Homo sapiens: one gene and its partners. The protein of the gene in region 3 purifies or fractionates together with the protein of the main gene of each other region. This does not show direct contact. Each region holds a gene or a part of one and is shown on either strand. Other genes may lie near its edges.

Region 1 (3,500 bases), on a different chromosome or scaffold from region 3:
GTTGGAGGGAGGAATAGCAGCACCTGTGCCAGGCATCTGCCCTTTAGGAATGCTCTGCTCTAGCCAAAGAATGCTTGCCTCTACCTCTCTGTTTATTCTAATCCTGTTCATCCTTCAAGGCCAAGCTGAGAGGTATCTTCCTCCAGAAGCTTTCCCTGATGGCTTTAGGCCCTGGGGTCTGTCCTCCTGAAGTTCTAGATCTCTGAGTCAGTTGTGCTCCATGGGCACTGAGCACCCCTACTCACCTAGCCTCACACCAACACCTTGCACTGGCTGTTGCATTTCAAGAGAAGGAGTGGGGCCCAGCATTCCCTGAGGGCCGCCTCTCAAGCGGCTAGTGTTATCAGGCACCAGCCTCTTCCATTCATCCTCAACCATTCTGGGATGTGAGTGCTATTAACCCCTACTTTTCAGAGAAGAAAACTATGGCTCAGAGGAGTTGAGTGACTCAACCAAAGCCACATAGTAAGAAACAGAGCCCAGACCCAAACTAGCTGGTAGGCTTCAAGATCATGGCGCAATCTGTTCACTGTTAGGCCACTTTCAAGGCTCACACAGTTAACTTATTTCTCTCAGGTTGAGACCAGCCTCACACACTTCTGTGGCTCCTGCCATGTTGCAGAGCGCAGGGCCTGGTACACAGCAGGAAATCCATAAATACTTATTCATCTACATATAAATATTCACGAGAGGCAAACGGTGTGGTGGTTGGTTAAGAGCACTGGCCCTGGAACCAGATTCTAATTCTAGTTCAGACACTGATACACTGTGTAACCTGGAGCAAGTTAGATAACCTCTCTTTGCCTCGGTTTCCTCTGCTGTAAAATGGGCACAAAAATACTATCTACTTCAAAGGGCTGTTGTGAGAGTTAATGAGTTAATGTAAACTGCTTAGGATAATGTGGACACGGAATAAATGTGTGTTGTCATTGTGACTGGCTGATGGATTTCTAGTCTGGCTAGGCTGTAACTCTATTTCTCCAGCTACTATCTCAGATCTTTTAAATCCAAATACACAATGGCCTGGGCTAAGCTACACCTGCTCTGCTTTCTGTGGGGACCAGTGGAGCTATAAGAACACAGCATCTGGAATCCTAAAGTCATGTGTTTAAGTCCATGCTCTGCCTTCTTGGTCCCATTGGGCCTCAGTTTTATCTTCTGTCCAACAGGTGGAAAGTTCGCTGGGAGGCTGCCAGGATAGTGGGGGTGGAACATGGTGACTTCTCATTCCCTGCAGCCCCTGGGCCAGCCCTCCCCACATTGCATGTATCCTTCTCCCTCCCCCTTTAGCTTTCTCACCTTCCTGTGTCCTGTGAAGAAGAGGGAAAGGTGGTGCATGGAGCCACCATTGCGGCCCAGCTCTTTCTTGAGGGTGCTGGGCGAAGGCATGCCCCAGGTGGAGGCGGCGCCCTCACCGTCTGAGCAGTGCAAGGTGGTGTCGGAGGCAAAGCAGGGCCCTCGGGGCTCCTGCAGCAGGCTGCCCTCGCTGTGCGTCCGGCGCCGCAGCGAGTTCTGCACACGCAGTGAGAGGCCACCCTCAGCCCCCTGGCCCGTCTCGATCATGCTGCTGCGCTTGGCCTCACTGCGCTCTCCGTAGTTGTCATCGCTGGTGTCCTCATCCTCGTCCTCCTCCCCTTCCTCCCCCTCCTCCACCTCCTCGGCCTCTTCTGCATCCTCCTCATCTCCCGAGCAGCCCTGCTCTGCCCCTGCCTTCTGGCTGTAGGTGCTATCCAGCCGGACCTCAGGGATCACGAAGGCTGGCCTGGGGGCCGCAGGTGGGTCCCCAGTAGCTGCTAGTAGGTCCCCGGAGCTCATGGTGTCCTCAGTAAGGGCCTTGGCTGGCAGGGAGACCTGGCTAGGAGGCAGATCTTGACAGGGTGGAAGGTCCCGGGTGGGGGATTCCTGGATGGCAGGGAGGTCTTTGGTGAGTAGAGGGTCCTGGTGAGGCAGGGGTTCTTGACCAGCAGGTAGGTCCTGGCAGGGTGAGAGGTCTTGGGCTGGAGGGGGTTCCTGGCATGGTGGCACATCCTTGCTGGGCGGAGCATCTGGGCCTGGAGGGGATCCTTCAGAGGTAGCTGAGTCTTTGCTGGACAGTGGTTCTTGGCTGGGAGCGGGTTCCTGCCCAGAAGGGGAGTCCTTGTTGGGTGGAAGGTCTTGTCCTGGAGGAAGCTCCTGGCCAGGAGAGGGCTCCTTGCTGGGTGGGGAATCCTCGGCACCAGGCCCCTTCCCTTCCTCCAAGGCCATCTCCCTCTTCTCATCTGCCTCCGTCTCAAACATCTGGGAAACAAAAAGAAAACAAGAACAGTTCAGAAGAGGAGGCTCCAAGATGCCAGACACCATGCATGAGCTGACATGAAATCAGGCAGTGGCCTGAACCCCGGGCCCCCAGTCTGAAAGCTGAGGTGCCAGATGGAACCCCCAAAGCCCCTTTGACTTAGCTGGGTAACAATTCTCACCCTGTCTTCTTGCTTGAACTTTCTGCTCCATCAAAAACACAGCTGGTCATTTATAGGAGAAGAGGGAGAGATAACCACTATCTATCTAGCTCCTGCTTTGGCAGGTGCCAGGCCAGCTTGACCCCACTCTCTTATGTGGCCTTCCCGACAACCCTATAAAAGAAGCATCACTGTCCCCATTTTACAGAAAAGGAAACAGGGTCAAAGTTGCCTCTGGGGATAAAGGAGAACCAGGCAGTCTCTGCTTATGGACCAGAACCAAGCCAGGGCAGTCACTGAACCCAGCCCAGGGTGTCTTCTACCTGAACTCAAGTTTAAAAAATCCTAATGAGTCATTCAAACAAGAATGTGCTCTGAACGCTTAAGTATCTTTTTGAAACTATTAAACTGGAATGAAACCGGAACTTTAAAATATTGTCCACACCTGGACTCACCAGATGTCGCAGACACACGGAACCTCCCTGAAGAATCACCCACCCAGGGATTTTTAAACTGCTTGGAGGAAGCTCAGGGATTCCTCAAAAAACACAGCATCTCCTGCCTCACACACAACCCTCGGGATCCTAGGGGGTTTTGCTGAGTTTCGACAGTAGATTTCATGTGCAAAGAGAAAAACATTTCTCTTAATGAAAGTCTGAATAGCAGCTATGTCACCAGAAGATTGGGGCCCCGAGAAAGTCAGGAGTGTCCATGGTGCCACAACCACACAGGGAGGCAGTTCTCAAGTCTGGGGTGGGCCCCTCCCAGTCAAGGACCAGGAATGCCGGAGCTGGAACTATTTATTTAGAGCCCAGGTTCTGTCTTCAAGAAGCCATAGCTGCTGAGAACTAATGAAAGGGAAAGACCTCACCCATACTCGGGAACTGAACAGATGCTTGGGAATGTGTGCACCTGCGGGCACACGCGCACACTGGCAGAAAACTTCAGGGGTAAGTACCCCCAGAACATGGGTTAAGAGCTCTCATTGTAGAAATCATTAATGTCCATTTGATGGATGAGAAAACTGAGCCCAAAGGCCGGTGACTTACCCACTATTGTACAGCT
Region 2 (4,254 bases), on a different chromosome or scaffold from region 3:
ATGCTTATGCACATTAAAGTTTGAGCACAGATTGCTCTAAGGAGCCTTCATGGAGAAGGCAGCATGGAGTTTGTCTCTGAAGGGTGGAGAGGTTGGGGAGGAGGTGCCCCATATCAGGCTCGTCTGATAGAGGATTCAAGCTTGGGCCTTTCACTGTCTCTCTGCATTGTGGTCATCATTGTCCCTCCTCATCAACCTTTCCAATTTTCTCTTCAGCCTCCTCCCAAAACCTCAACAGCCTTTTCTCTGGCTTCGCTCAACAGAATTTTCTGCAATCTGGGAACAGGGAGGTGGTGCCCACACAGAGATGAATTAGCATGTAAAGGACACACACATACAGGGCAGACAAGTAGAGGGCACTCAGTCACAGGCAGACAGGAAGGGGGCAGAGATGGGTAAACAAGAAAAGGATACAAAATCACAAGCGGACAGGGAAGGACTGGCGCACAGCAGATCATCACAAGCAGACATAAATGGGCTGGACAAGGACTCCTATAAACATGGATGGAAAGGAAGGGCACTTACAGAGACAGATGTAAGAAAGTCACATACAAAGCCATAAGAAGCAGCACTCACAGACGTAAAGGAATGTAAAGGACATCTGCAAATGGATAGGTGGGAGGCACAGCCAGGTAGGACGGACTCAAGTGATTCCTCAGAACGGTCGCCCTTTACCCCACTGAGCTGAGAAGGGATTAACCTCAAGTACCTGGCCCGGATTGTCAGAGCCTTGCCCATCTTTGTCTCACTGGTTGCTGCAGAGGGAGGCCAGGCCCCAGGCTCCAGGGTAAGGTGTGTTCCTGGATGTGCACCCCGATCCTGGTGAGGGAGATCACCTCCTCCCTTTTACGTCACATTTATTTCAACTCTTAGATGCTTATTATTAGACCTGCAGCCTCGCTTCTTTCTGGCTTGCAGCCCAATTTCGTACGGGTCCCTTGGGCCCTTGCTCTTTTTGGGATGTTTTATTCTAATTCCCAGTCCCAGCCGACTGGGAAGCTTCACCAGTTCATTTACAGATCACTTTGCCTTTAAGCAATTTTCCTCAATCCGCCAGCTTCCCAGACTCCCTTTCGTTCCCGACATCACTTGCAGTTTCTAAGAGCATCATATCTCCCAGAAATCTTAGTGGCCAAGGGGCTACCCTAGGGAACTTCAAGTACCGAAATGCTCTCCTGTCCGTCTCAGTGACTGCCGTGGTGACCGGTGGGGCTTGTAGTCACCTCGGAATTGTTAGGCGACGAAAAAAACTACTCACCCCAGGTGTCCCTGCGTCAGAGGCGGGTTTCTCTCCTGTCTCCCTTTGCTCGCCCCTAAATCCTTCCTCGGACTCCAACTCCCGCCGTGCCTTGCGCTGAGATCCCTGCGGCAAAGAACCGGGCTGTGTCCAAAGTGTTCTCTGGAAGTTGTAGTTCCTGTATTGGTGAGGCAAGGAGGAGGCGGAGTGACTCGGCGGCCATTAGCTGTGTGTAGTTGCCCGGGACTAGGAGCTTAAGTGAAGAGGTACGCCTTGTTCGGTGGAAATCAGCCGTAGCCATGAGTTTCTGCCGGGGCTAGCCCTAGAGTACGGAGCAGGCGGACTTTTCGGTTCCCCGCCCCGCCAGGTGGCGGGGCCTACTAGGCCTCCGGGCATCCCCGGTCTCAAGTAGGCCTCATCTGCCGGCAAGGGCGCCCGAAACGCGGGAGGCGCCATGTCGCTGGTTGCTTACGCCAGCAGCGATGAGAGCGAGCCGGATGAGGCTGAGCCCGAGCCGGAGGAAGAGGAGGCGGTGGCTCCTACATCTGGGCCCGCTTTAGGGGGCTTGTTCGCTTCTCTCCCTGCGCCCAAGGGTCCGGCCTTGCTGCCTCCGCCCCCTCAGATGCTGGCGCCAGCCTTTCCCCCGCCGCTGTTGCTTCCCCCACCCACCGGAGACCCCAGGCTTCAGCCTCCTCCCCCCTTGCCCTTCGGCCTGGGAGGCTTCCCCCCACCTCCAGGCGTGAGCCCGGCTGAAGCGGCGGGAGTTGGGGAGGGACTGGGATTGGGGTTGCCCTCGCCCCGAGGCCCTGGCCTCAATCTGCCCCCTCCAATTGGCGGTGCCGGTCCCCCGCTGGGGCTTCCCAAGCCAAAGAAGAGGAAAGAGCCCGTGAAGATCGCGGCGCCGGAGTTGCATAAGGGAGATGTGAGTATCCGGGGAAGGCACCCCCAAACTGTCCATCGGGTTTGAGTCGGCTGTAGGAGGGACATGTGGAGATTTCAGAACTCCTTCCTACAAACGCATCCGTGGATTCAAGGCCACTGGAATCCTCTTATAATGCGATTAATTGAGCTGAAGTTGGTCAACTTGGGGGAGTTTGGGTGTTTGCCCATGTGGGTTTCCTGAAGCTGGGCTTGCCTGCAGAAGGCCACATGTCATCATCACCTGGTACTGACAGGCCTAGGGACACTTGGATCCGCTCCCCCTTCTTTGCATCTTCACTTCAGTCCGGCTTTTTCCCCTTTCCTCCTACTGAGAACAGGATGAAATCTGGCACCTGAAGAATGACAGGAGACAGGGCTCCTGAACCTTTGCCGAACATCTGGGACAAATCTTTTCCTTGCCTCTGAACTCAAAAGCATCAGGCCTGGAGGAAAATGATAGCAATCTTGGTTTCTATTTTTGAGGGGAGTTAGAGGAGAAATCGAATATTTGTTTAGTGCAGATCATTTGCCGTTCATTGGTCCTTTCTTTCAATTATTACAGAGCTCTGGGAGGTAACATACTATTGTTTTACAGATGAGAAACAGGTGTCCAGCATGCACGATTTTACCTGGTAACAGGGCAGAGTGAAGATTAAGATTAAGGTTCAGTCTCTCTGAACCTCAGATCTGTGCCTCATATTCATCATTTAGCTATGGTCAAAGCTAGGTGAGTTAGGATGCTTGGGTACTGTTTCTAGAAGAGGCAGCGAGTCTTACCTGTTTCTATATGTGACAGTGGAAAAATACAAGGCTCCTGGAGTGAGGGCTTTGGAGATAAAGGAGAGATTAAGCCTTGGAGCAGGAACTGCTTAGAATTACTTACCGGAGAGAAATTTATTGCCCTTGCTTTTCTTCAGACTCCCAGCTCTGCCTAGGAGCCATTTCCATTCGTTGAACTTGCTGTTCCTTAAATTTCTTCTCTCAGATATCCTAATGTTCTCTCCCTCACCTCACTTGGCCTAAAAGGCCTGTTTTCGGTGAGGACTTCCCTAGCCTACTATGTATTTAAATTGCAACCTCCTATCACCTCCTCCTCCCCATTGCTCTTTGTTTTATTTTTCTCCATTGCACTTAACATCATCTGTCCTCCCACTAGTATATAAACTCCATGAAGGCAGGGATTAAAAAAAAAATTCACTGCTATAACCCTAGTACTTAAAACAGTGCCTGGCACATACTGAATACTCCCATGGATATTTTGTGAGTGAAAGAACTCCAATATGGATTTTTCATGGAAGGAGTTTCCAGAGTTTCCCTCCCAATCTTGTTTGAAACTTTCTTCCTTTTTTTTTTAAATTTTTTTTATTTTTATTTTTTTTGAGACGGAGTCTCCCTCTGTAGCCCAGGCTGCAGTGCAGTGGCACGATCTCTGCTCACTGCAAGCTCCGCCTCCCGGGTTCACGCCATTCTCCTGCCTCAGCCTCTCGAGTAGCTGGGACTACAGGCGCCCGCCGCCACGCCTGGCTAATTTTTTTGTGTTTTTAGTAGAGACGGGGTTTCACCATGTTAGCCAGGATGGTCTCGATCTCCTGACCTCGTGATCCACCCGCCTCAGCCTCCCAAAGTGCTGGGATTACAGGCGTGAGCCGCAGCACCCGGCCACTTTCTTCCATTTTATTTCCCCCTTCTTTCACACCTGAGAGTCTCTCATCCTAAGTCTAGGATCCAAAAAAAAAAAGCCTTTTATTGCTCCATGGAAACTTACTTTGGCTTTGATTTAACCTGGAACAAGGAAAGATCCCTGAATGAGACAAATAAAAACAGTCTACATGGACATGGAAAGCTCATTTCTAGCTCTGTGAAGGTAGCATTATAGAAAGTTGGGAGAGGCCGTAGAATCTGCCATTTGGGTTGGCTGAGGTGGCAGAAAACTCTGAAGACTAACACTCCCTCCTTTGTAAGCATTCACTAAATTTCTGAGGTGAACAGTAACATGGCTAATTAAAGTCCTAGCCCTTGCTGGTTGAGTTTCCCATTTTTGTTCTGTTCAAGTTGGTCTTTTGGTTCTCGGAACACATAATTCCTGCAGAAAGGTA
Region 3 (3,500 bases):
TAAATTTGCCACATTGAGACCTCAAACCATGGTGGCAACACTGTTTATTTCATGAAGCAGGGAAAATCCTTATGAATGAAGAACTAAGGAGTAAAATCACTGTTAGCTTATATAGGACTTAAAATGGCTTTTCAACTAAGACATTTCTACATGAAATTTAGTACTTCATAATGGCTATAGTTGTGTGTACTTCACAAACTTAAAGATTACTAAAGTATGCACATAAAGGTAACAGTAAGCAACAACAACAAAAAAGGAATCAGAAGTATCAAGGTACTGACCCATGTCCTGAAGGAGCAATGAAGTATAAACAACACTGCACCCTGTTATCAGGCATCTGACGTCTGTTCACTCGTGATTCTGCATTTAGGTAGTCCTCAAATTTACTATCAATGTAGTCGATAACAGGCTGCCAGCTATAGAACGCAAATAAACAAAACAAGCTGCAATTCTACATATGAATTAACTGATGACTGTTAAAGGACAATAATCAGTATTTTCAAATGGGCAAAATGAATTTACCAGTAGAAGATATGTCAAGTTATTCTATATATTCAAAAATATAAATTATGTTGAATAAATATTCATTATTCAAAACTTTCCAAATGAAAGAAAATAAACTATTTACTGTCGAAACACAGCTAAATATTAGCATATTATTTGCACTAATAAGTGTATTAATAACACACTTCATAATATGAAAACAATTATATGCAGTTTAAAATTTCAAATGAGAGATTACTTTAAATAATAAAAAAACTTCATGGTGAACTTGGGAGTTTTAAGAGTTGACAGAAAATTACCTCAAAAACAATGTGAATTCAAACAAAAATAAAAGTATTATTTATAAAATACTAAGATAATTACTTCAGACTAAAATTTCATAGTTGTTTTCTTCACTTAGGACTTACAGAAAAACTGAAAGTCTAAATATCAGGTTTAAATTAGGATTGAGATAGAATTTATACAAATGAATAAAATTAAAGTGAACAGTTTTAAATTTCTTACAATAATGAGAATTCTTCTATTTACCTATGTTATTTTAGAATATGTCTTAAAAACAATTTTATGATAGGTATTATCTCCATTTTATAGAAAAGTAAATGGGTTCAAAGAAGTTAAACAACTTTGTCAGATAAGTGGCAAAGTTGGTATACAAACCCAAGTCATGTTGCTTGAAGTTTGGTGACCTTTGCTAAGATGAGAAGTTTTAAAATGTTAAGAAGAAAAAGTTTAACCACCCCAGTACCCCAAATGCACTGCAAAGTTGTGAGGACAAACCCTTCTTACCAATTACTATTATCCACTGCATCTCCAAATCCTGGGGTATCAACTATTGTGAGCAGCAACTGAACACCACCTTCTTTGATTAAAACTTTGGATTGTTCCACCTGTAAGAGTAATTGGTGCAGATGTTAATATCATACATTACATCAGTGATTTCCTACAAGGGGTGATGGTAGGGACGTTCGAGTTTATCAAAACCAACTGGGAAACTGTTAGCAAACTAAATCTACCTACTACCACATTACCTTTAGAATTGATGATAGCGGGCATTGGAAATCCAGATTATTTGAAAGAAAAGCATATATACAAATAGTCTGCCAATCTCTTGGCAAATTCATACTGGGTTTATGACTCATACTTGGTATAAAGACAGACAGAGGAACTGATAAAATAGTGATCACCACTAAAGACATGTAATACTTATATAACTTAAATGTGCATCTAATAATACAAATAAGCAGTTTGAGTGATTTAATAATTCACAGAGTTCAAATGTAATTAATCAGAGAAGAACATCTAATCTACCATTTACAGTAAATGTCTTCCTGGACTATTCTCTATCAAGTTTGGCCCCAACCACTCACTCAAATAAACTTACTATCATTCCTTAATCTTTCTCAGCATGGATGTATTACCCTTGTATTTATGTTATGGCTAGGATCCAATCCTTTTCTCAAATGTGATACTCCACATTCTGGACAATGTAATCAGCAAAAGTCCAGACAGTTTTTATTTTAAAAAAAAGTGTATTCTGGTAGGGTGAAACCTTACTAACTGATTATTGGACTTAAATGATAACAACAGTTCCTGGAACAATTTAAGACATTCTGTAATCTCAAGCTCTGTATCAGAAGATGTATTATCATTCATCCTGGGCATATGCTGCTGTTAAATGCAAAATATCAGTTTTCAGGAACCCAAGATAAAGCAAACACGGATTCAAATGAAAAGGGAATAATTCCTCCAGAAAAAGACAGGCTTTCTCCTGATAACACATTTAATAAGGATAACAAGTCCTTATTAAGGCTAGAGGCTCCAAGTATGCTGATAAGCTAATTTACAAGACAAAAAGTTTGGGACACTTTTAGAGATAGCCTACTTCCTTTTGGCATGTTTTATAGATGCTACCTGATGCATGAAGAGACTAACATGCGGAGACTAAGATTGCTGAGCAAGAAAAGTCTGTAGCCACACTATCCAATAACACTTTCTGAGATGATGGAATTGTTGTGTATCCACACTGCATCTCCAAATCCTAGGGTATCAACTATTATGAGCAGCAACTGAACACCACCTTCCACTTGTCCATGTGGCTACTTAGTCCTTGAAATCTGACTACTGCAAATGAGGAGCTGATATTTAATTTTATTTAATTTGAATTAACTTAAATAGCCACATATGGCTAGTGACTACCGAATACACAGCAGAGGTCTACAGCAATCAAGAGTTTTCTGTTAAAAAAATTTTATTATGAGGAATAAAACTTATTAAAACTGAAAAAAATTGCCTGAGATGTGGACACACATGACTTATCTTTTAGAGAAATGAGATGCCAAATTCTTATCTTTTAATGTTCTTTAAACTGCTTTGATCCTGATATAAACTATCAAGTGAAAATTTTGCAGATCCAAAAGATATTTATCCACCAAATATATACTATTGGCAATCTGAATATTAAGTATTAATATGCATTATCATTAATCTGTAGATTAAAAAAGTAAACATCAATAACAGTTGTAATATTTTCTGATCATCCTCAGTATCAATGATTGATGCACATCATTTAGGAGATCACTGTCACATACCACACAACTAAGATAACATGTCTATTATCAGGTTACCCTAATAACATGAGAGAGGCAAAATAACTCAGAGAAAACAATCAGATTCATCAGTGTGAGATCATGAGAACCAAAGGAAAAACATTTTTTTTTTTTTTTTTTTTTAGTCAGGGTCTCACTCTGTTGCTCAGGCTGGAGTGCATGGCAGATTATAGCTTACTGCAGCCTCACTCCTGGGTTCAAGCGATCTTCCCATTTCAGCCTCCCAAAGTGCTGGGCCAAAAAAAATGTTTAATGGTATCATCTCATCTAGTTTAGGAGGTTTACATTTTATCTGGTGATCTTCTAGCCAAAGGACAACCCAGTCAAATCTAACATCTCAATATCTTGAATTCACTTCCATCTCCTTTATAAAGACAGATCATTTATTCA
Region 4 (3,500 bases), on a different chromosome or scaffold from region 3:
AGGACTTTAAGAAATGGTTATAAAATAGAGACCACAATAAACACTACAACTGCAAAAGAGAGAGAAGCAAAAATACTTCAAAGTGAATTCATTAAGACTTGGAGTGATTAACAATGCGGTAAGAGAAAAAACGGGCAATGGACCAAATGATCAGAAAGTCAGTAGTATCATTACTAGGAGCAGTAAAGTTGAGAGGCAGACTACTTTTGGAATAAACGGTACACACTAGAAACTGGTTTGATGTTGCCAATGAGACACATAAATAGAAATATGTTGTAAGAGCCATCGGCGTAGAGGTGACATTTGAGAAAACCAATGAATGAACTGAATGAGAGAAAACAGCCAAAGGTTACCTTTAAGAGCTAAGAGGAAAACAGCATAGGGAAAAAAAGAAAAAGACACAGTAAAACAAAAATATCAGAAGAAATGGCAGTCTAGGAAAAATAAAATTCCACAAAAAGAAAAATAAACATTTCCACAGCACCACAGTTTCCACCACAACAAAGATTTGTAAAAACTAAAAAAATGTATGGAGGAATAAGGTCTCAACTTGCCCTACTGAATGTCTTCTCTGTTTTCCTCACTCAGAACTAACCAGACTAATACATCTTTTGTTAGATTTGGTGGTGTTAACAGTGAAGTGCCAAAACAGTCTAACTACTCTTTGGAAGGTATAATTAGACATTTAAAGGGCACCAACAATATTTAAACATGTTAAGACTGCTTATGTTCCTGAGAACCAAAGAAGTAGAACCTAAAACCATGGCAGCCCTACCACAGCATCATCTTTTGAGATATACAAAGGAAACTCTTTAAATGTATCATACTATCATGAATTTTAAAAAGATGACCAGCAAAAACCTAGTCAAACAACATTCCACCAATTCTCCAGAACATCCAAGAAGTATAGCTGGAAAACTCACAGGTCTGTCCCGAGATTGGCACTAAATGTTTATAAGAATCTTTTCTAAAATTCAGAGCTGTTATTAGCCAGTAGTGACAGACTGAGATTCAATACAACCACTCTATTTTCCCTCAAAATTAGAAAAGTGAAGAAATGGGTGTAGAAAATGAAAATTAAGACCAGGCATGGTAATCCCAGCACTTTGGGAGGCTGAGGCAGGTGGATCATCTGAGGTCAGGAGTTCGAGACCAGCCTGACCAATATGATGAAACCCTGTCTCCACTAAAAATACAAAAATTAGCTGGGCATGGTGGCAGGTGCCTGTAATCCCGGCTCCTCAGGAGGCTGAGGCAGAATCGCTTGAACCCAGGAGGCGGACGTTGCAGTGAGCTGAGATCGCACCACTGCACTCCACCTGGGCAACACAGTGAAACTCCATCTCAAAAAAAAAAAAAAAAACCCAGAATTAAAATACAATTTTATAACTGGAAAAGACCTTAAGATCATCATCTACTGTCTTTTCTTTGTCTTTAGTGGAGTATACGCTTAAAGCACCTCCCCCGCAAAGGTCATTAAGAAGAAAGTCACTAGCTGAGAAAAAAAGATGAGAAAATAAAGATTTAGTATTACATCTCTCAATTTACTACACAGATATGAAAAAAATGAAAATATAGTTCCTACCTTTAATGCATCGTGAAAGACCGGAACACCTGGGTGGTATGTGCAAGCATCTGGAGAAAACAGAGAAAAAAAAAAAAGTACCACTCTTTATAATGAAGAAAAATATATACATGATCATCTCCTTAAGGTGTTAACCTTTAATCCTTTTTCCAAACGCAAGTACCTTAAAAAGGTACAAATGATTGAGTTTGACGTGCAGCACAAAGTGTACTATATTAAAATAGTATTAAAAATTCTAATTCAAGCATATGATGACTAAGGACAAAAATACAGAATTGTTTATGTATAACAATTATATTTTATATTCCCCTAATCTTGGTAGTAAAATTTGTTTAGTACCAAAACTTCAAACCCCCAAATTTTGACCATCATTTTTCAAACCTGCTTTTACAAATGTACTATCAAACTTGAAGTATTCTTATGTGCATTCATCCATAAAGGTTTCACAAGAGATTCCCTTAAAGACATTTTGTAATAACAGGCTCAACATTTTAAATACTGTAAAGATTTTTTGCAGTATCTAATTGGTAATTTAACTTTCCTAGACACAGTCATTCCTAGGTACAAACCTCACTAAAAAGAAGACTAGGGTGCCTCTGCCTGGCCCCTGCCCTGTTTGGGAAGTGAGGAGCTCCTCTGCCCTGCCCCCGCCCAGTCTGGGAACTGAGGAGTGCCTCTGCCTGGCGGCAGCCCTGTCTGGAAAGTGAGGAGCACCTCTGCCTGGCCACTGTGCAACCTTCCAAGTGTGAAGTGACAGCCTTGTGTGTGATCTTTCTGCCTTCCCCAAGTGTGCATTTTCAACATTAAAGTTTACTTTTTAATTAAAAAAAAAAAAAAAAATAGAAGTCTAGGTGGGCCTGGTGGCTCATGCCTGTAATCCCAGCACTTTGGGAGGCTGAGGTAGGCAGATCACCTGAGGTCAGGAGTACGAGACCAGCCTAACCAACATGGTGAAACCCCGTGTCTACTAAAAATACAAAAATTAGCCGGGCGTGGTAGTGCATGCCTGTAGTCTCAGCTACTCAGGATCTTGACAGGAGAATCGCTTGAACTTGGGAAGCAGAGTTTGCAGTGAGTCAAGATCATGCCACCGCACTACAGCCTAGGTGACAGAGCAAGACTCCATCTTAAAAAAAACAAACAAAAAAAACTCTCAAGTTCTACAGCCTATTTTCTAGATTCTCACTGGGTGTTATTCTATACTTCCCTCCCCACTACACCATCAATCTTTACTTCTCTTATGTAAATGGGTTTATTACAATTTGTGTTGGGAACAGGCCCCCAAATCTGGCCATAAACTGGCCCCAAAACTGGCCATCAACAAAATCTCTGCAGCACTGTGACATGCTCGTGACGGCTTTGATGCCCAGGCTAGAAGGTTGTGAGTCTACCTGAATGAGGGCAAGGAACAACTGTCCCACCCAGGGCGGAAAAACACTTAAGGCATTCTTAAACCACAAACAATAGCATGAGCCATATGTGCCTTAAGGACATGTTCATGCTGCAGATAACTAGCCAGAGCCCATCCCTTTATTTCCCGTAAGGAATACTTTTAGTAAATCTCCATTGGAGGCTCTCAGCTCTAAGGCTGTGAGACCCCTGATTTCCCACTCCTTACTATATATTTCTGTGTGTGTGTCTTTAATTCCTCTAGCACCACCGGGTTAGGGTCTCCACGACCAAGCTGCTCTCAGCAATTTGCAAGATGGAGTACTATATTTTTAAAAATCAGGTAACAGTCAGCTTCATCCCTCTGCAATCTGCTTAAAAGACTATCTTTCAACCTTTCAAGTCTATTTAGCTTTCAATGCTCTACAACAACCTTGTCCAACATGCCGCCCCAGACAACTCTGAATGTAGCCCAACACAAATTTCGTAAACTGTCTTAAAACATTATGAATTTTGTTTTTGTTTT
Region 5 (3,500 bases), on a different chromosome or scaffold from region 3:
ACGATTGCAAGCTGTTTATGACCTGTAAAATGGTTTGGTACGCATCCCCTCAGGCTTCGTTTATGTACTTACTTGTGTATTGTGTTTCTGAAAAAATCGAACCATACATGCTCATCTTTTTGGCAATTCAGAGCATTCTATTGAATGGAAGGTGTGTCAACATTACAATTTTTTCTAGCTGATAGACACAGTGTGGTTCCAGTTATCCTTGTATGTCATGTTATGAATATGTGAATTTTTCTTAGAATAAATTCATAGAAGGAAAGATGCCAAGTTGCTTTTCGCCAGCACGAGTGCTTGTTTACCTACTTAATTCTAAGGTTGAAATTTTTTCTTTTGCATTCTTTCCTACCCATTCCCAAAAATACTTGTAGTACTTGCTGTAATTTTGTAATTTCTAAGCAGTGTTTGGTCTAATCATTATGTACTTTTCTTGTTAGTGACATTTTGGCTAGTATACAGCTCCCTTTTTAAACAACTTTGATTTTATGACAACTTTTCCAAAGTTTAAAACTTTTTTTTTTCCCTAGGCAAATCCTGATCCTAACTGTTGTCTTGGAGTATTTGGGCTGAGCTTGTACACCACAGAAAGAGATCTAAGAGAAGTGTTCTCTAAATATGGTCCCATTGCCGATGTGTCTATTGTATATGACCAGCAGTCTAGGCGTTCAAGAGGATTTGCCTTTGTATATTTTGAAAATGTAGATGATGCCAAGGAAGTAAGTAAAAGCCCGTTCCTTTGTAAACCATCAGTTCTATTGTTAACGCCAAGTTATCAGTGACCAATTGCTAGGATAAGGACAAGGACAAGTCAGTAATACTTCGAACTTTTTCTCCAACCTCTTGTGGAGACTCAAGATACATGCAGAATAACAAAATTTTGTATAACTTGGGGAAGTTGGTCCTACCACCTGCTTTATTAGTTGCCACCTATTGGGGTCAACTATACCCCAATTCCGCCAGGATATGTAGTCAGTGTTTACACTGGGTTCACATTCTAGAGTCAAAAATAACCAAAAGCAAAGTTATGATGCAGAAGGAAAACATTGTTCCTTTTTTGGCTAGTGAATGATGTCATATTTGGATTTTGATTTGTTTTGAGGCAGAATATAGAGTCAAGATTTGAAATGTGGGGCTAGACCCCATTTAAGAAATTCAGATTTTAGGTACATTAAGGATGGTAGCTAAAGTCATCTCCAAGTATAGAGAAGAGGAAGAACTGAGAAACACTTAATGACAAACGGAGTTTCACTCTTCTTGCCTGGGCTGGAGTGCAATGGCGCGATCTCCGGCTCACCGCAACCTCCGCCTCCTGGGTTCAAGCAATTCTCCTGCCTCAGCCTCCTGAGCAGGTGGGATTACAGGCTACCACACCCAGCTAATTTTGTATTTTTAGTAGAGACGGGGTTTCTCCATGTTGGGTCAGGGTGGTCTCGAACTCCCAACCTCAGGTGATCTGCCCCCCTCGGCCTCCCAAAGTGCTGGGGGATTACAGGTGTGAGCCACCATGCGCGGCCGCCCATTTCCTAATTAAATTTTTGCAGTAGGATCATAGCTCTCGGAAAATAGCATAAATTTTATCTTAATCTCTAGTGCCAGAAACTGCCTGGGCGTAAACACTAGCTTGAACATCTGAACTAGAAGATAGCATAGTATTGGAATTAGAAACTTAAATTCTATTTAGGTGAAAGGATGTTTCCTCAAATTATGAACAAACTTTAATGTGTTTGAAACGGGGTATTTTTATTTTTTAAATGTATGCTGTTAATACATACTTTGGGAAAAGGAACTATATGTACTTAAGGCTGTGCTTCAGTCTTAGCTTTTGGCTTCCAGAGAAGGGCTAAGAAAACTTCCAAGGGTTAAATAATGTGTTCAGGTTTCAGTCATAGGATCTCAGTCGCAACTATTTAACTCTGTTGTTTTAACCCAACAGCAGCCAGATGAATGAGTTGGGGCCCTATTCCAATAAAAGATTATTTTGGGGCATTGGAATTTGGATTTTGTGTGTTTCTTCACTTGTCATGAAATACTGTTTTTCCCCCTAGTTATTTAAATTTTTAGCTTATGGGTTATACAGAAACAGCCAGCTGGCCAGATTTGACCTACAGGCTATAGTTTGCCAATTGTGTGCTGCTTTGGAGCTGGAAATACTGTCAGGATCATAGTTAGGTAAAATAATTGTTTCAAGTTTTTATGAGTAGCTTTTACAAATGAACATTTAGTAGAGGGAACAACACATTTGTAAGTTGTAGACCTTACGTTCTGGCTAACATTAAGATAACTTAATGCACCTAACTGAAATGTCCAGTGGGATCTTACTCATAGCCACAGGATAATTAGTGGCTTTGTTCAGGATGTATGTAACAATTTATTTACCTTTTGAAGGCTAAAGAACGTGCCAATGGAATGGAGCTTGATGGGCGTAGGATCAGAGTTGATTTCTCTATAACAAAAAGACCACATACGCCAACACCAGGAATTTACATGGGGAGACCTACCTAGTAAGTTTATTTTCAAAATAAATATAATTGGCAGTTTTTCACTTGTCAAAGAAACACTTGTATTAGTGGAAAGTCTTCAGCACTTAGGTTTGTGCCATAAACTTGACTGTTGATTGATTAAATGCTCCTCATTAGGGCATTTTTCTCATAGTAGAAGTTCAACCATTACAGGTAAAACTAAATCTTAGTCAAGTCCATTTTTAAATTTTTTGTTTGTTGTTGTTTGGTTTTGTTTTTGTTTTGTTTTGAGACGGAGTCTTGCTCTGTCGCCCAGGCTGGAGTGCGATGGTGCAATCTCAGTTCACTGCAACCTTCGCCTCCTGGGTTCAAGCAGTTCTCCTGCCTCAGCCTCCCGAGTAGCTGGGACTACAGGCGCGTGTCGCAACGTCCGGCTAATTTTTTGCATTTTTAGTAGAGGCAGGTTTTCACCATGTTAGCCAGGATGTTCTCGATCTCCTGACCTCATGATCTGCCCGCCTCGGCCTCCCAAAGAGCTGGGATTACAGGCGTGAGTTGCTGCACCCGGCCTAAATTTTCTTAAATAGAGCAAAGTGATACTATTTTTGTTTCCTCTTAGAAATATGTGGGATATGCAGATTGACCTCTGGCAGGATCTGTGTGCCTCCTTAACCAAAGATTTTTAAAAATAGGTTTATATATATTGAAACAAGGGAAAGGGCAATGTTTGCTCAATATAGGTGAGAATTTTAACAGGAATAATTTTCATTTTCCAGTTAATGTGTCAGAAAAGGCCTACTAGTAGATATAAAAACTCATGTCCAGAAAGATAAGGGAGGTCACCTGAATATTTTTTTCTTCATAGTGGCAGCTCTCGCCGTCGGGATTACTATGACAGAGGATATGATCGGGGCTATGATGATCGGGACTACTATAGCAGATCATACAGGTAAGTTATGAGGTAGAAAGGTCAACGTCTGAATCTCAGTACAGTGTACAGAGCAGCACTATGCTTAAGTTTTAGCCTTTGTTAAAAGC
Region 6 (3,500 bases), on a different chromosome or scaffold from region 3:
TTCATCAGTAGGATCTGTTTGTACAGATACGCATCTACTTTTTCTGGAGCCCTCTTTCAAGTCTAAAAGTAATAGAAATTAATTTTGTCAGACATTCCCCAAAGTAGAGTTAGATTAAATCATATAAACCCATATTTACATTCCATGTTAAAACACCTTAGTACAGGCCAAGTACAGTGGCTCACGCCTGTAATCTTAGCACTCTGAGAGGCCAAGGCAGGTGGATCATGAGGTCAGGAGTTCAAAACCAGCCTGGCCAGCATGGTGAAACCCCATCTCTACTAAAAATACAAAAATTAGCCAGGCATGGTGACGCGCACCTGTAGTCCCAGCTATTTGGGAGGCTGAGGCGGATCACTTGAACCCAGTAGGTCGAGGTTTCAGTGAGCTGAAATTGCACCACTGTACTCCAGCCTAGGCAACAGAGCAAGACTCTGTCTCAAAAAAAAAAAAAAACCCCACAGTATAACACCTCACGTTAAATTAAAAGTTACCAAATAAACTATTTTTCATAAAACAGTTAACCTGGAGACTACTACTTTTCTGATAATTCTTTCCACAACTAATGCCTGGGTTAAAAATAAATTATTAAACACCAAAACTTACTTTGAATTACATTAAGACATGTTTCACTAAATTCTATTAAAATAATTATTCCCTCCAGCTCTCAAATCATAGCAAAATTACTTTTAAACTACTTTTGTCACTGAATATATTTCATGTTATTAGTTGCTACAGTTTCTATTAAAAATACCCACATAATATAATTTTTGCGATTATTAACCCTTGTTTATACAGGAAGCAACATGGCACTGGCTCTGGAACAGACTGCCACTTTTGAATCCTCAATCAGTTCATCACTTACTAGGTTAATGGTCTTGGCCAAATTACTGACACACTTGTGTCTTCTAGAGTTAGAGGATAAAGTGAGTTAAAACATGCAAAGTACATCAAATAATGCCTGGCACAGAATAAGCTTTCAACAAAGGTTAGTGATTGCTTCTACAGAGTATAAAAATATCTGAATAACAAATATAAAATATTCATAGAGAACTCAAATTTTACCTTATCATGCCTACGTTACATTCTAATAAAAATAATATTTTCCCCCAATACTATTCTGAAACCACTAAAATAACTTTTTAAATGTTTCTGTTTTAGAAAAGGATACTGATTTTAGAGAGGAAATTCTTAGTCCTTATAACTTAAGAAAGTTTGAATTTACATACCCTAAAGAGATAACATTTTCCCCCAATACTATTCTAAAACCACTAATAAATAACTTTTCAAATGTTTCTATTTTAGAAAAGAATACTGATTTTAGAGAGGAAATTCTTAGTCCTTAATTTACAACTTAAGAAGGTTTGAATTTACATACCCTAAAGAGATGGGAGTATTCAACTTTAACAACCAGATGGGATTTATTTACTCTAATGCCAATATCAAATTAGATAAATCTTAGGGACCCCCAAAAAAGCTCATCAGAAATCTGAGCCATTAAGACTACAGAAAAAAGGCCGGGCACTGTGGCTCACGCCTGTAATCCCAGCACTTTGGGAGGCCAAGACGTGTGGATCACGAGGCCAGGAGATCAAGACCATCCTGGCTAACACGGTAAAACCCCGTCTCTACTAAAAAAAAAAAAAATACAAAAAATTAGCCGGGCGTGGTGGTGTGCGCCTGTAGTCCCAGCTACTCCGGAGGCTGAGGCAGGACAATGGCGTGAACCCGGGAGGCGGAGCTTGCAGTCAGCTGAGATCACCCCACTGCACTCCAGCCTGGGCGTCAGAGCGAGACTCCGTCTCAAAAAAAAAAAAAAAAAAAAAAAAAAAGACTACAGAAGAAAATAAATCAACACTTGACATAGGCCAAAGCAAAACTTACCATTTTCTATTAATTGTTTGTTTCATAATACAAAATGTTAGATAAGTCATACTTCAATGAAGGTTGTTAGAGCCATGAATCTAAGCAAGTCTGTTTGAGAGTCATGAATCTAAGCACAGCTAAAGTTCCCCCCAAAAAAGAGGACAAACCAACCATATTACAAACTTGATTCCAGAACTAAATCAAGGTAATGACTGTTATTTTTGTGGCTAAATCCTTCATTTCTAAACATCAATTAATCAATTCCAAAAACGCTAAATATTCAAGCAATGATTCCTCTCCATCCACTGCAGTTTAAGTGGGATGGGTATTTTTACACAACTGTTTAATAAAAATCCATACTCAAATTCCTGATACTAAGAAACTTAATCAAGCCGGGCGCGGTGGCTCACGCCTGTAATCCCAGCACTTTGGGAGGCCAAGGTGTGCGGATCATGAGGTCAAGAGATCGAGACCAGACCACCCTGGCCAACACGGTGAAACCCCGTTTCTACTAAAAATACAAAAAAAAATTAGCCGGGCATGGTGGCAGGCGCCTGTAATCCCAGCTACTTGGGAGGCTGAGGCAGGAGAATCACTTGAACCTGGGAGGCGGAGGTTGCGGTGAGCCGAGATCACGCCATTGCACTCCAGGCTGGGCAAAAAGAGTGAAACTGTCTCAAAAAAAAGAAAAAAGAAAAGAAAAGAAAAAGAAACTGAATCAAATAAACTGAAACTAAGTCAAAAATAAAAATTATATTCTACCAGCAGAGTAAACAAGTACATCAATGTTTGTTTTCCAGTGGAAGTATGGAAGGAAAATTTAAACAAGAAAGTCTTCATTAAATCAATTAAACAAAAGCTTAAATTTACTGAAAAAAAAATTTTTTTTTGAGATGGAGTTTCATTCTTGTCGCCCAGGCTGGAGTGCAATGGCGCAATCTCAGCGCACTGCAACATTCGCCTCCTGGGTTCATGCGATTCTCCTGCCTCAGCTTCCCAAGTAGCTGGGATTACAGGCACCCACCACCACACCCGGCTAATTTTTGTATTTTCAGTAGAGATGGGGGTTTCTCCATGTTGACCAGGTTGGTCTGGAACTCCTGACCTCAGGTGATCCACCCACCTCAGCCTCCCAAAGTGCTGGGATTACAGGCGTGAGCCATCGCACCCAGCCTAAAGTTTTTAATTTAATAAATATCTTAAATACTGAAGTCAAAAACTAACATTAACCTTCAAATTTCAAAAAAATCTTAAAAGAAAATTTTTGAGACAGTTAATTATCTCCAACTTACCTGGCTTATATCGTAGTTCTGTATCTAAGACCCCAGAAAGTACTTCCTCTATCTTCTGCACTATTTCTTCATTTGGTAGACTCCTGGCAGAGGCAGCTGCATCACCCGCCTGGTTTCCTTCAATGGGTGTATTTGTTTCACCATTCAGCTGGCCTTCATTCCTTCCACTTGACATGAAAAGTTATCGAAATTCATTAATATTTTATCATACCATTAATAAAAAAATCCAATTAATTACAATAATCATATGTTGTACTGACTGTCAGATGTTTTACCTTTTTCCTATTTTAGATATTCACCACTAATAATGCTTCTTACCATGATCTACTTATATTTTGGACA
Region 7 (3,500 bases), on a different chromosome or scaffold from region 3:
GGACCTGAGACATAGAAGATGACTGAATGGAAGAGGTCAATGTGGAAATCAACATAAAAAGGGATGCGGGGGAGCTGATGTCATTCATTTACCTAAAAGAAATAGTGTACTTCTGGAAAAGGGTCAGACTAATTGGAAAAATCAGCCACAGTCAAATGAATTCAATTAAAAAAAAAATCAAATTAGCCCTGGTCAAATAAATCCAAGTTAAAAGGAAACAGTCTTTAGTCTGAAAAATAATATTTTAGTCTGAAAGAGTCTAATATTTAGGTAGCATAACACTACTACAGTTCAGTGGATGAAATGGAAGGTTCTAAGTAGGTTAATTTATAGCACAGTTATTTAGGAAATAGTCCTGATTATATAAATTTATACTTGAATAATTTCTTAACCAAATACAAGCCCCATATTGATACGAGATGCTAGGTGGAAAGCTGTTCCAGGACTATAGTCATAAGCAAACTAAGTCACTTACAGATCTTTTTTTAAAAAGCCATGCACTAATATGCAATGATGTTCCCGGTTACCTTGCTTGTTGTTTTGGATGTTTTCCTGCCAGGGTTATAATCGCCTTCATTTTCAGAGCCAGATGCTTTCCTTTTCTTTGCCCCTCGGCCTTTACCTTAAAATGATACAAAAGGTTTTTTCTTCCGTGGTTAAGTGCAATATAAAAAGATAAATGCCACAACATTGTAGTTTATTTCTTTGGCATGCCCAATCAGTGGAGCATTGCAGTCCTGATCTCTTACTATGAGTGATTATAAACAATTTGGCAGTAGCATTTCAATTCTGGGGTTGACATGACCAAAGACTTTTTGACAAATACATTTAAACTAGTGGGAAAGTCCCAAAGACAAATTTTAATGATGAATCCCTTCATACATAAAACATTTGTATTTGCTATTTGGTCCTTGAGCCTGAAAAGGAAATATCTTGGAAGAGTACTTCTTAAATTACATGGGATTTAAATATTTTTTTTCATTTCTAATTTGTCATGGGCCAATACTTTTAAAAATACCATAGAACACAAATTACTAAAAAATGTAATCACATGCTGTTTTAGTAACACATTATTATAAAGGTCTAAATGTTTACTCCGTTTTACTTATCAAAGACTAGTAACAACCAATTGCATATCCCACATTAAGTGGCACCATATGAGAACCACCAGTATTAACTATAAAATGTCAAATACATATTCCTTCTCAGACCTAGACTCAGCACATGCAGCATTTTTTTTCACCTACCTAACCTCTTATTCTCATCATTGGAGGTGGAAGGAGAAAAGGTAATATTTAAGTAGGGGCCAGATGTTCTCCATCCCACAATGATGCCAATGAAATAAAACAACTAAATAGCAATTTTATATCTTTAAAATCCCTTGACAGCTAGACTGGACAAGTACGAAGATAGACTTAAATAATCTTGGGATGTCATATTTGATCAAATGAATCAGGGAAATAGCATTTTTGAATTTATAAAGGCTTTCAATCCTGCATATCTTGAGTACTACTTTCCCAGTCACTGTGATTCTTTTCCACCCTATTATCCCCATTTCCCTGTAGGTCTACAGCTCCTTATCCCAACCACTCCTTAAAGAAATATAAGAAACACACTGAGGAAGATATCCTTCAGTTGAATAAAAGGTAGAGCAGCTACCCTCACAGCATGAGCTACCCTCATATCATGTCTTACAAACATATTTTACAAAACATCTTCAAGGGCTTTCCAGATTCTGGAGTTAAAGAGGGGATGCCATGGAGAACTGGTGCTGTTCCTTGTGTGGCCCTGAATACAGTTATTTCTTAGGTGAGAAAAAAAGTTCTAGCCTAAGAGTCCTGGATCTAGCCCATTACTATAAGTGTCACAGTTAGTGTGGAGTACTGATCTGACTTTTTAATAACAACTTTCAGTGAGTTGGCTGCAGGGGAGAATTTGGACCATTCTTAGGGATTCTTATTTAACCTCTTTGAGCCTCAATTTTTTAATTTGTAAAACAAAGTGACTGAACTAAATTGCTATGCCTCCTTTGGACTATATTCAGCACTGATTCCTAGACACACTGCTTACTGAGGAGTAAAGCAATTTAAAACAAAATAGATACCTAGCCTCTCTAAATTCAATGAGGTAGAAAAAATTCAATCTTTTCCACACAGCATATGTTTAAAGGGTTATAAGAAGATAATCCTCACCTTTTGGTGTTGTAGTCTTCTTTGGAATGCCAAATTCTGAATCCGAGTCAGAGTTTACAGCCTCTACTACTTTCTTCTGTTTTGGGGCTCTCTTGGGCTTAGGGACTGTATCTGAAGACGGTTTTCCTAGTAAGCAAATTTCCATTTCACAGGTCAATATACTTACCAACAAACCAAACTGAAGAGAGTCCTATATAAATGGAATTTCTTATAGCTGATTAGAAACTGAGTTGCCTGGCTGGGCGTGGTGGCTCACACCTGTAATGCCAGCACTCTGGGAGGCCAAGGCGGGGTGGATCACCTGAGGTCAGCAGTTCAAGACCAGCCTGGCCAATACGGTAAAACCCCATCTCTACTAAAAATAAAAAAATTAGCCAGGTGTGGTGGCAGATGCCTGTAATCCCAGCTACTTGGGAGGCTGAGGCAGGACAATCGCTTGAACCCGGGAGGTCGCAGTGAGCTGAGATTGCGCCACTGCACTCCAGTTGAGCAACAAGAGCAAAACTCTATCTTCAAAAAAAAAAATTGAGTCGCCTTAAATAATGAAATGGTTTCTCTCTGCTTGGCGGCAATGTAAAGGCAAACAATTTCTCATAGATGACAAAATGCTTTTTATTTAATTATGTATAATTTGCCCTTAGGTAATACAATTAAGACATTTTAAGGAAGAGCCATTAAAATAAATTAAGCAGTAACTTTTAAATACAGAATAGTCATGACAAAAGAGTAGCATATTTGATAAATTAATTATAACCCAGATATAACCACAGATTAAGTCCTAACTTTTAGAATGTTTTAGAGAAAAAAATGTATGGGATCCTCGAATACAATGAATAGAAACCAACTCACTTCCATTCAAAAGCTGAAATCCAGACTTGGCATTTTTATGTGGAAAGAAATATAAAATCCTAGATAAGTAGACAATTGATACCAGGCCTTTGCTTTCTGGAATTTTGAAAAATAGACCTTGTTTTACAGCTTTATCTGCAGTTCTATGTGAAAACTGATAAATAAGGCCAGTTGCAGTGGCTTACACCTGTAATCCCAGAACTTTGGGAGGCCAAGGCAGGCGGATCACTGGAGGTCAGGAGTTCGAGACCAGCCTGCCCAACATGGTGAAACCCCATCTCTACTAAAAATACAAAAAATTAGCCCAGTGAGGTGGCGTGTGCCTGTAGTCGCAGCTACTTGGGAGGATGAGGCAGAGGAATCGCTTGAACCCAGGCAAGGGAGGTTGCCGTGAGCCAAGATCACGCTACTCCACTCTAGCCTTGGTGACAGAGCAAGACTCTGTCTCAAAAAAAAAAA

Evidence for each region.
Region 1: the proteins of SEPTIN7 (region 3) and RGS3 purify together in Homo sapiens (co-immunoprecipitation; one large-scale study listed by IntAct). This does not show direct contact.
Region 2: the proteins of SEPTIN7 (region 3) and PRCC purify together in Homo sapiens (affinity purification with mass spectrometry, with the first as the bait; one large-scale study listed by BioGRID). This does not show direct contact.
Region 4: the proteins of SEPTIN7 (region 3) and CHORDC1 purify together in Homo sapiens (affinity purification with mass spectrometry, with the first as the bait; one large-scale study listed by BioGRID). This does not show direct contact.
Region 5: the proteins of SEPTIN7 (region 3) and TRA2B fractionate together in Homo sapiens (co-fractionation; one large-scale study listed by BioGRID). This does not show direct contact.
Region 6: the proteins of SEPTIN7 (region 3) and SON fractionate together in Homo sapiens (co-fractionation; one large-scale study listed by BioGRID). This does not show direct contact.
Region 7: the proteins of SEPTIN7 (region 3) and TOP2B fractionate together in Homo sapiens (co-fractionation; one large-scale study listed by BioGRID). This does not show direct contact.

The regions. Positions count from the first base shown.
Region 1 is NC_000009.12:113,582,227-113,585,726, reverse strand, and holds part of RGS3 (regulator of G-protein signaling 3), read right to left. Parts: exon of another isoform or gene 3,485-3,500; intron 2,278-3,484; coding exon 1,300-2,277; intron 1-1,299. UniProt on the Homo sapiens protein: Down-regulates signaling from heterotrimeric G-proteins by increasing the GTPase activity of the alpha subunits, thereby driving them into their inactive GDP-bound form.
Region 2 is NC_000001.11:156,766,081-156,770,334, forward strand, and holds the start of PRCC (proline-rich protein PRCC), read left to right. Parts: upstream 1-1,454; 5' UTR 1,455-1,691; coding exon 1,692-2,159; intron 2,160-4,254. UniProt on the Homo sapiens protein: May regulate cell cycle progression through interaction with MAD2L2.
Region 3 is NC_000007.14:35,870,557-35,874,056, reverse strand, and holds part of SEPTIN7 (septin-7), read right to left. Parts: intron 1,392-3,500; coding exon 1,291-1,391; intron 417-1,290; coding exon 282-416; intron 1-281.
Region 4 is NC_000011.10:90,216,550-90,220,049, forward strand, and holds part of CHORDC1 (cysteine and histidine-rich domain-containing protein 1), read right to left. Parts: intron 1,636-3,500; coding exon 1,586-1,635; intron 1-1,585. UniProt on the Homo sapiens protein: Regulates centrosome duplication, probably by inhibiting the kinase activity of ROCK2. Proposed to act as co-chaperone for HSP90. May play a role in the regulation of NOD1 via a HSP90 chaperone complex. In vitro, has intrinsic chaperone activity.
Region 5 is NC_000003.12:185,921,015-185,924,514, reverse strand, and holds part of TRA2B (transformer-2 protein homolog beta), read left to right. Parts: intron 1-530; coding exon 531-719; intron 720-2,388; coding exon 2,389-2,504; intron 2,505-3,327; coding exon 3,328-3,411; intron 3,412-3,500. UniProt on the Homo sapiens protein: Sequence-specific RNA-binding protein which participates in the control of pre-mRNA splicing. Can either activate or suppress exon inclusion. Acts additively with RBMX to promote exon 7 inclusion of the survival motor neuron SMN2.
Region 6 is NC_000021.9:33,546,038-33,549,537, reverse strand, and holds part of SON (protein SON), read right to left. Parts: intron 3,326-3,500; coding exon 3,159-3,325; intron 63-3,158; coding exon 1-62. UniProt on the Homo sapiens protein: RNA-binding protein that acts as a mRNA splicing cofactor by promoting efficient splicing of transcripts that possess weak splice sites.
Region 7 is NC_000003.12:25,598,908-25,602,407, forward strand, and holds part of TOP2B (DNA topoisomerase 2-beta), read right to left. Parts: intron 2,319-3,500; coding exon 2,193-2,318; intron 623-2,192; coding exon 528-622; intron 1-527. UniProt on the Homo sapiens protein: Key decatenating enzyme that alters DNA topology by binding to two double-stranded DNA molecules, generating a double-stranded break in one of the strands, passing the intact strand through the broken strand, and religating the broken strand.